Linked DNA regions of Homo sapiens: region 1 is linked to region 2. Evidence: fine-mapped expression QTL. A gene starts in region 2. The other region holds a variant in brackets. All regions are shown on one strand. Distances are from middle to middle.

Region 1 (5,386 bases), 290 kb after region 2:
GTCAGTCCCAATGCGAGAACCTGGGTATCTCAGTTTGAAGGTGCTGCATTTACTAGCCCCTTTTTATTCATCTCCATGAGTGCTGCAGACCACAGCTGCCTCTAATTGGCCAGCTTGGGTTCCAGCGTTCTGAGTACCTGTTTTTAAGTCTTTGGAGTATGTACCTGGGAGTGGTATTGCTGGGTCATCTGATAACTTTATGTTTGATTTTTTGAGGAACTGTCAATTTTTTTCTCACAATGGCCAGAACCAATTATAGTTTCACTGGCAATATGCAGGGTTCTAATGTCTTCACATCCTCACCAACACTTGTTATTTTCAGTTTTTAAAAAAGCTGTTGCCATCTGAGTAGGCATAAAGTAGCATCTTATTGTGGTTTTGACTTGCATTTCCCTAATGATTAATGATGTTCAGCATACTTTCATGTGCTTGTTGACCTTTTGTATATTTCTTGTATTTTTATGGTATTTTTCATTTGGACTTCTCAGTGCTATCAGACTAGAGCTATCATGAAATATCTGTTGATTTTTGAATGCTAAAACCAGTAAGTTATGCCTGTACACCTTGAAGAGAGAAAAATCACATAATAGATTCATTAAAAGCTGGTTTATGGTTCCCGAAATGCACCTGGCTGCCATTTTGATTGTATGGTAGATCCATCCTGGAGGACACTTCTTTGATGCTAACTTTATTTCCCACTATGGATCCAAGACTCAAAATTAGCAGAGTTAGCCCTAGGTCTGACCATAGGTAACTCGATTTCCCATCAGTAAAATGAGGCATTGAGAAACACCTCTCTCTCAATAAACATTAGAAAAAGTTCTTACCCTTTGATTAAGCAATTTCCCTTCTAGCATCTATCTATAGCAAATGAACTAAAACAAGAGGGGAAAAAAAGCTTTATATGTAAAGATGTCTCATAGCATTTTCTCCTTACAACTGCAAAGCAATCTAAATGTTTGACAATAGGCAACTAATTTATTGCATAACTAAATAAAAAATTTGGCAGCTTTTATAAATAATACCAATGGGAATTTGTTTAAACATAGAAAATATTTATGTTAAAATTTTAAATGCAAGGAGCATGATTTAAGCTTGGGTATATAATATGATTGCAAATATATAAAACTAGAACACAAAATTGTGTCTAGAATGAAGACTAGAAAGCAATACATCAGAATAATAAAGAGATTGTCATTGAATGACAGATTCTGTTGTTTTACTATAATATATCGGGTGATATTGTTGACCTCTAAAAAAACAGTGCTCATAATTATAATAGTGAATTTATTGTCATTTTATTCAAGCAAACATGGCCAAGGTTCAAGGTTTGCAGATCAAAATTGCACACCTAAATGTTGTAAATATTGCCAACCATTTGAGAAGTGTTGGTTAGTTTGAGTTTAGCATGTTGACCTTTGAACTTATGGTACAGGGTCTTTTACTATAATACGACTTTGTTACAACTTAGGATACCACAGAATAATTTCATAGATTGCTTGAATCCCATTAGTTTTTTGTTTTTCTGTTTCTTCCTGCAGATTTTTGTGGGAAAATCTGAAATTTTAAATTTAGAAAAAAAAATGTCTCTTTACAGGTGTTCCATTGCCTAAAGAGGAGAACATTTCTGCTCCCTTGATCTCCAGCTCCCCAGTGAAGGCAGCCCGGGAGTATGAAGATCCCCCTAGTGAAGAGGAAGATAAAATAAAAGAAGAACCTTTAACCATCTCTGAACTAGTGTACAACCCAAGTGCCAGCCTGCTCCCCACCCCTGTGGATGACGATGAGATTGACATGCTCTTTGACTGTCCTTCTAGGCTTGAGTTGGAAAGAGAAGACACAGATTCATTTGAGGATCTGGAAGCAGATGAAAACGCCTTTTTGATTGCTGAAGAAGAGGAGCTGAAGGAGGCTCGCCGTGCTTTGTCGTGGAGCTATGACATTCTGACTGGCCATATTCGGGTGAACCCACTGGTCAAGAGTTTTTCCAGGCTCCTTGTGGTGGGCCTGGGACTGCTGCTCTTTGTATTTCCCCTGCTCCTCCTCCTTTTGGAGTCAGGTATTGATCTCTCCTTCTTATGCGAAATCCGCCAGACACCAGAGTTTGAGCAGTTTCACTATGAATACTACTGTCCCCTCAAGGAGTGGGTGGCTGGGAAAGTCCACCTCATCCTCTACATGCTGGGTTGCTCATGAAGTTAATCTCTCACGTGACTAAGGGCTATATTCAATGCT[AG/G]TGATTTCTTTTTTTCAGCAAATGCCTGGTTCTGAAGGGTCACGGGGCTGTCAACAGGTGTTCCTTACTCATAATTGATTATTCAAACCTTTAAGTTAGCTTTCCATAATTCACTGCACTTAAATAAGTTTAAATCAAATACAGTTATTTTAGTTACAGGTTAGGAAGATGGTCTTTAAATAACCAAAAATATGTTTATTTTTTATTATAGTGTAGACATACCCTTCATCTATTATATCATAATACATGTTACATTGGACTGAATTAGATTTTCCCATTTCTAATAGTTGGCACCATTATAAGCTATAAGGTTCAGAATCAGAATTTTAGTAACAACTCAAGAGAAAGTTGTTGAATATAATCCTTAGTGAAAACAGTGTCCTCTAACCAATGCCTATACAACTAAATTTATGCTGGGTTTTTGGTTCTGTTTTTTTAAAAATATTTTTATGTGTTCAAACTATTTTGGTAAATTTTTAGCAAAAAAAAAAAAGAAGCCTCCTGGAGTTATTTACATGTACAGATTGTAAGACTAATGCACAAAAGGTATATCAGAATTTTTTTAATGTTTTGGCGCTACTTTGTTTTTAAAAATATTTTTGGCTGAACAATACCATAATTTGTTATGATCTGCATAGGAGATAGAAAATGGGTAGAAAGACACTATAGTAAGTAAGCTGCTAAAACAGAGGATGGAACTGGAGGATGTAGAAACTGAGAGCATCAAGTGGACTCAGGGTGGTCCATTTTTCAAAGTATTTGGACAAGAGGACTTGTTATTTTCATTTGTATTCTGTCCGTATATTTTGGCTGGAGAAGCAGATGTTTTAAAAAGAAAGTGAGAGTTTAAAGGAAAAAAGGTAACAGATGTGCTAGTCAGTTGCATATCAATGTACATTAACCCAAGAGTGAAGGCAGATAGGAACTGGAGAAATGGAAAGTGGCAAAAATGAGTTCTGGTGAGGCTGGCAGGCAAATGGTGACAGGCGAATGGTCTATTTTATGAAAGTGATGGTGATGCCAGCGTTCGATGATGTGAAGAGCAGTGCAGTCGCTGTCTGAGTTAACATGAACATGTTTAAGTGGATCTAAATAAAAGTGGAGAAACTTTAAGGTAAATATTTTGATCCCTCATGCCATTTGTTGTGATTCTGTAGAAGAAACTTCAAAAATGTGTTTGTATGTGAGTGTGCGTGTGTGTGTGTGTGAGAGAGAGAGAGAGAGAGAGAGAGAGAATATGAATGGCTTTTTGATACATGTCCATGATCATGTTTTGCGGTGGTCATTATACTCCTTTCCTTTCCCAGTTGTTTTAAAATTTGACTTCCATAGAGAAACTGGAGAGGCCTCATGAGATGACATACCAGTTCAGCCTGGGTAAAGTAGTGACATGACCCTAACCAGACTGTAGAGGGGACCAGTGCTCTAGTACCTTCCTTGATACCATTAAATCCATGATGGAAAGGATTTAATCCAACAATTTAATGGTATCAAGGAAGGTACTAGAGCATTGTACCATCAGCAACGTACTGATGCCTTCCCATGCAGACTACCTGCTGATACTGTGTTATGTGGGAGAAAGATAAGAGTCTAGAACTTATGCCATGGAGCATAGAGCTTCTCTGTGGATTGAAAACATTCCACTGCCCTAATGTACAAAGTTACAGGGCCCACTTGGAATCGCTCTCTCTAGCTAATGACATTCCAACCCTATCATTAGCATGATTTCTAAATTGGGCAATACATTTCCACTCACTCAGTGGAGCTCTGAGTACTTCACTGGACATTTAATTTTGGAAATGAGTTTTGAAACTCAGTTCGTGAAGCCTGCAGTCGAGCAAATGACTATATATTTGCCATTAAGTTTGAGGGGTTTCCTTTCCTATATGCTTTCAGTGATTTATTTTGCTTTTTAAATAAAGATTGTTTGTTTATTACCTGAAAGTTGATACTGATTTAGGAATATATTTTCTGTGATTGGAATCCTCAACAATTTATTTTGGAAGCTTGCAGATGGCTAGGTTTGAAATTGAAATTTGTGTTTTTCTCCTTCTTTTCTCATACGACTTCTAAGTCATCCTTTCTGACATAAGGCAACTTTAGTGTAGTCTGCACAAAATTAGTCCCCTTCTGATCATGCGTCATATAATTTTCTCTAAAGTTCTGACTATGACAAATCATCTGGCCCTCAGTCTTTCAAAATAATATTATATAATATTTTTTAAATTATGGAACTAATATATTTTCCATTGTAAAATACTTAAAAAATATGATAGTATAAATATCACATGTAATCCAACGATGCAGATTTATCTTAAGGAGTAATAAATATATTATTTTAACATTTCCAGCTAACATCTCTTTTCTCTTAGGTGGAAACTTCATTGTTGAATAGAAATGTTTTTAAGTGAAGAAGTTGACAGAATAGGGTCTGCTGAATTTAAACAGCCATCAAAAGTTAAACTGGAATCTTGAAATGCCATTTGCTCGGCATAGAATCAGAGCCTTTTAGAAACATCCATTTAAGTTTTGTTAGAAGATAGTCACCAGTTGCCTGAATCGAATGAGGAAAAGCCTGCTTCCAGAGATGGACAGTATATTATAGAGTGAGATATAGAGTTTAAAGCAAGTGTGTGAGTATATGTATATTCCATATTATTGGTATATGTGTGTTTATATATGAATCTGTATATATGTGTGTCTTTGAATAGACACAACATATATGCCCCTCATGCATAATTGTGCTTATTTTGCCCTAATTGAGGAATTTGAGATGTATTATTGGTTCTTCTCCCTCTCAGATACTATGGTGGGTAAAACCCACAGCCTGAAAGGGTTAAATTTTCCATAAATGCCACTGAGTGTACATTTGTGGATATAAATAAATATATATAATACACACACACATATGGCAAATACATATACACACACAATATTGCCTTTAGTGCTAATGCAAGTTGGATCATGAAAACAATGTAGGTAAAGTAAAGTATGTATTTGTCTGTGCTTGAAAAATATTGTAAAATGTTATGTATTTGGAATATATTTTGTGGTTTGTCTAATATTTATAAACACAACTCGGGGTGAATTCACAATGAGTTTATTTCATTGAAATACTAGAGATATGGGGGCCATGTTACTGTGATTGGA
Region 2 (5,386 bases):
GTGGATGCCCCCTCAGGGGACACAGTTAAAGAGAGGTAAGCTGGCCACATGTGGAAATACACTGCAATATTTCCATCTCCTTGATTCTTTGGATCTTTTCCTGTACATGTACCAGGGAATTTCCTTTTTCTCATCTTCATTTAGCTGAGTCCAGAAGTCAGTTAGTCAATTTAGATAGTACATTGAAACCAGAGTCATTGGGAAGTGAATTCAAATGGACAGATTCAGGTTTATTCACACATATACTCTTCAATGTAAATTAGCAGAATCTTGCAATTCTTTCTCTTCTTGGGGTTGACTTTATAGTTGGTCTCCTAGGGTGTGACTGAATCTGGTTCAAGTATTAAGAGTGAGAGTAGTCAGAGATGGTGGGAGAGGGGTGGGAGGAGATCGGCTTCCCTTTCCAAGGTAACTGCCTTAAGTGAGTTCCGAAGAGGATCTTCAAACAAAGCAGGAACAGCCTCGTTACATAAGGAAGAGGGCATGCTTCTGCTGCCAAGGGAGTTTGGGGGCTTGAGTGACTAGGAATCATTCAAGTTTTCTTTTATAGTCCTATTCTTATTCCCAGATTCCCACTCTTTCCTGCTGATAATTATAAAATCTTGTGAGGCCGATAATTCAATTGACTTTGTAATTTGGCGATTTGTAGATGAAATTGTGAATTTGGTTTTTCAGTTTTGGCCTTGTGGCTCAATTAACAAGATATTCTTTGAGCTCTGTTGTTTGTAAAAATACAGTTGTTTAAAAGTCATAAGCTGATAATTTAGGACTTAGTGCATCACTACTTTTCTTTCAGTGGTCCAGTTTTAAACTCATCCCTTGAGTTCATTCTTTGAGTTCTTCCTAATCTTCATATTATTATTATTATTGTTGACAATGGCCAGTTGGTTTCCCAGAGCCTTGTCTTCATTGGGTAGTTCAATCCAGGTGACCATACTTGGTAATTTACCTAGCTGTCATGCCAAGTGCTTCCAGAGCCTGTATTTTCATACTAGTTGAATCTCAGCCTTTATTCCTAATCAGGCCAGACAACCAATCTCAGATTCTTCTCATTTCTTCAAAATTCTGTTTCTTACAGTCCCACATTGGGTTATCTTTATTCTGTCTTTTTCACTACTGTCCTTGTTGGTCTTATTTTGCTTCCTTGGAATTTGGGGTAACAATTTTTGGGTATTGATATGACTCTTTTGGAGCCTAACGGTCACTATAATAGGATGGACAAGTGTGTGTGTGGTCTTAAAAGAAAAGCATGGACTGTTTGGCTGGTGACTTTTCTTTGATCTCTGGGCTGTCTGCTCTTTTGGCTAGCAGAGATGATCCAGTTTTCAACTTGGGGCAGGTCCCATCCCTGCCACCTCATATGTGCATATGGGGATTTACAGATTACAGCTGTAAGATGTCCTCCACTGACCCGGTGTCATACCAGCTTCCCAGCCACCTGTGGGATGAACAGGTGTTCTCTCCTTTGAAATGAGAAAAGAAATGGAGAGACTTTTCAAAGATCCCCAGGATTAGCCAGTAGCTGGGCCAAGAATGAAATCCACATCTTCCCATACCCTCAATACTGACCTCTCCATCAGGATCTGCCCTAACATTTGAAGGGCCCAGCTCAAGAGCCTACATGAATGCCCCATACTATCATCTAAATATTCATAAGCAATAGTCAGCTATTGAGTGCTACATAAAACATTCTCTATCCTCCTATCTTGACAAATTGTTGCAATTTGGAATTTCCAGGAGCAGATACTGAGACTGAGTTTGTCCTGTGTGGTATTTATTAGTGATCAACAGGGAGAGGAGGCAGGAGCAGGCAGAGAGAGAAGTCCAAATGCAATGCGGACTCCCCCAAACCTTAGCCAACCCCACTAGGTGTCCTAGAGAATATATGGCCCACCAGACTGTCCAGGGCAGGTAAAATTTGTGTGCCACTCTTCCTCGACCCCCAGGACAGGGCATATCTTTGGATGAGGGGACTCTATGCAGGCACAAACCTTGAAAAAGCTGACAGCTGGTCAACACCTCCTCTTCTAACAAATGTTCCTTCCTAATGACCTGTTCTGCTCCGGCAAGAGCAACAGGGTGAGAGGACTTCCATCTCTCCCAGCTCCTGGACATTCTAGTGCTCACATTCAAGCTCCATACCCCTGACTCAACAGCTGCTCCTGGCCACTCTCGGGCCTACGGTACCTGACACAGTGGCTCTAGCCACCTTGGGGACAACAGAGAGGCAGGATACCTCCTACCTTCAACACCCTGGAGGCGCGTGGGGAATTCCAGAGTCCTCAATACCCAGAGATTGGACTAAAACGGGATGGGGCACATCCGCTTTGCCATTAGACCTCTTAATTCCTGAGCAACCGGGAACTGGAGGAGGTCTGTAAAGCAGGGGAGTAGGATAGGAACCTATCCCTCTTGCTCGGGTCAAAGGTATGCTATCAAAGATCACACTAAGATGTTGGGAGATTTAAAGGAGGATTTGCACATGGAAGGCTCTTTTTTGGAGAAAGAGACTGAGTCCTAGCTAGCATTAAATAAAACAATGGCTTAAACAATCTCCATGAGTACCAGAGATTTTTACTATTAGCGATATTCCTGGTGTAGCCGTGTCAGGGCTGTCACTCTCTCTGTCACTCGCCCTGGGCCCAGCAATCCTTTCCCGAGGCGGAATCCCCCTGGCGGTGTGGGTCAGGATCGCTCTCCGTCCCCTACCCGCGCCAGGTCCCTGGAGCTGAGCAGAGCAGGGCGCTGTCGAGCGCGTTGGGGAGCCGGGGCCGGGACGAGCACAACCGGGAGCCCGAGCGACAGCGGCCAGGGGAGGGAGGAGGCGGTGAGGCTGAGGAAGGCAGTCGGGCCCAGCTTGACGCAGCGGCGGCTGCGACTGAGCAGGCCACCACCAGGGCACCCGGGCCAGCCGCGCCAGCCATCCCTCCGCCTCCTCCTTCAGCTGCTCGGCGCGCGTGGGAGTGAGTGCGTCGCGAGCCCGCCGGGGGTCTCAGGCTCTGGGCGTCCTCGGCGAGCGAGCCCGGGCAGAGGGAGGCGCACGAGCGCGCGCGACAGAAGGAGGCGGGGAAAGGAGGGGGCGAGGCGGAGGCGAGCGAACAGAGGGAGGGACCCGCCCGCCGCGCCCCGGCCGCTGGGCATGTGTGTCCGCAGGCGCCCGACGCTGCCGATGTCCCGGGGCTGAGCCGCGCCCAGGTGTCCCGGACAGTGCGTGCGAGCGTGTGTGTCCGCGCAGGCGAGCACCGCGCCGGCCCTGAGCCTCCCGCTCGCTCCCCACGGCCGCGGTGCATGTTCGCCTCCTGCCACTGTGTGCCGAGAGGCAGGAGGACCATGAAAATGATCCACTTTCGGAGCTCCAGCGTCAAATCGCTCAGCCAGGAGATGAGATGCACCATCCGGCTGCTGGACGACTCGGAGATCTCCTGCCACATCCAGGTGCGCGTGGAACCGGGCGAGGGCGCGGGGCACACGCCGGGAGCAGGGCGGGGGGCCTTTGCGGTGGGCATGCGAGAACAAGGAACCCACTCCCGGAGGGGATTGGGGGACTGCTAGAAAGCCAGATTTCGATTCCTCAGGCCTCTGAGGGTGGGGGGCCTTATCCTGGCATGGAGGGGCATGGTGCCCTGCAAGCGCCAGGCACGCGTTATCCGCGCCCAGTCTCCTTCCCCTCGCGTGCACCCTGCGCGCGCGTCTCACTGCGCCCGGGCTAGGGGCGCGGGGCAGCTGCCTCCGGAGGGACTCTGGCCCCTCTGGGCCCTACTCCGCCAGGAGATGGGAGCTCCGAGGGCTGAGAGGGGCACCTGCATGTCGCCCACTGGTATTTCCTCCCTTCTTCCACGTGGAGAAGGCATGCATCAGCTGGGTTCACTCATTTCTGTCTCCCGCGCCCAGGCTCCGGAGACGCCCTCAGTCCCGGAACCTGCTTTCCGCTCCGTGTCGGTCCCCCTCACCCTCCGCCGGTGGTCTTTAGTTCTCCGCGTGGGGCGGTGGCGAAGTTTCCCCAGAGTGAGAGAGGCCGGGCTGCCCTGGGCGCCAGCCTTGAGGGATGGAGCGCGCGCTGCGCCGGACTGGAGCTACCTCGAAAGGAATGTGTGAAGTCTGAGTGTTTCGGAGAAAGGAAAAGGGATTGTGAGGCCAGCAAGTGGGGAGCCCTGCAGGAACCTGGGTCCTGGGTAAAAGAGCCCCGTGGAATCTTGGTGGACATTCACTGTCGCCCAAGTTGGAGGAGAAGGCGAGTTGTTTGGGAGAAGGCAGCTTTGCTGGCAGCCCTGTCCTCGGGTAGTAAGTGCCTCTGGGCTGTCAGGAGAGCTAGTGTGAGGTGCAAAGGTGTGTGTGTGCATGTGGTTGCGCGTGCGTGTGCATATTTGCTGTGGGTGAATATGTAGGCAGGTGGGAGCCCCTCTTCCAGGACCCCAAAGATGCCCCACTCGGTGCGCACACAATCAGGAAAGGTTGTGTCAGGGCTCAGCACAATTAACTTCTGACTTCTAAATCTATTTAACTGTTTATCTCTGGGATTTCCTTTCTCACCTACCCTAGTCGAGTCTTGAGGCTCTGGGACTGAGCTTTTTTTTTTTTTTTTTTTTTTTAGTGTAATACAGGGCACACCACCCATGTCAGTGGGAGGTGAGTGGGGCAGCATCTCCCAGAGTAGGAATCAGCCTCTAGGCTGTGCAAACCATGAAGGAATGAAAGGACTTTCCCTGTTTTATTTTTATTTAATTTTTGTTAGTGGGAGTGTGTGACATGTTGGGGGCAGTTGCAATTAATTTGTAACCTGACAGCCGGACAAGTGTCAAGGTAGGAATGTGATGCCCCATGATCTCCCAGGAAAGTAGGCTCCCATTGAATTTTCTGGGGGAGCTTGAATTTCATTCTGAGCTAAGCAGCACTGCTAAACTTAATAATAAAAGGATTAGCAGGATAGGCAGTGTTTCTACTGCCACAAGGGTTGCACAGAAGCATCTGGCATGTACTAATAGTCTTGTGATCCAGAGAGTGTGGACTGTGCACTTTGCTTTAAGTCCTAAAGTGGGTGTACAGGTCCTTTAACCCATAATGAATGTGTAGATGATGGAGGGGCCGTCAGGGAGAGAGGCTGTTGAGTTCTCCTCTGTCTCTCAGCCCTCTTCTGCCCTGTACCACTTGGTGTTGACATTTTTTTCCCCTCCCTCAGGATGAAGTCTTCCTTAGAATAATAAATATTCCCCAAAGGACATGTATTTGTTGTCTTGTGTTTTGAGAAACAATAAATTGTAGCCAGTCTAACAACAGTTTGAAAAACTCCAGTGCTTATGACCCAACTAGTGCCAAAGAGGTTAAAATGTTATGTTTCAAAATGTTGGCTTGGGCACTGATTTTTAAAAAATTATGATGTTTCATTTTG

The links.
Region 1: its variant is fine-mapped to the expression of FRMD3 in whole blood (TOPMed, PIP 0.94).

The regions. Positions count from the first base shown.
Region 1 is chr9:83,244,728-83,250,113 of GRCh38, reverse strand. FRMD3 (FERM domain containing 3) reads left to right here. Exons shown (of 14, transcript NM_174938.6): 14 at 1,598-5,386. The coding sequence ends at 2,196. All of the region lies in intron 2 of FRMD3-AS1 (FRMD3 antisense RNA 1), which reads right to left. Among named protein-coding and RNA genes, the nearest start is that of FRMD3-AS1, 28 kb to the right of the region's middle. The variant AG/G (reference allele first, on the strand shown) is at 2,236.
Region 2 is chr9:83,536,134-83,541,519 of GRCh38, reverse strand. FRMD3 (FERM domain containing 3) reads left to right here and starts at 3,119. Exons shown (of 14, transcript NM_174938.6): 1 at 3,119-3,435. The coding sequence starts at 3,289. RefSeq lists a silencer at 4,872-5,166.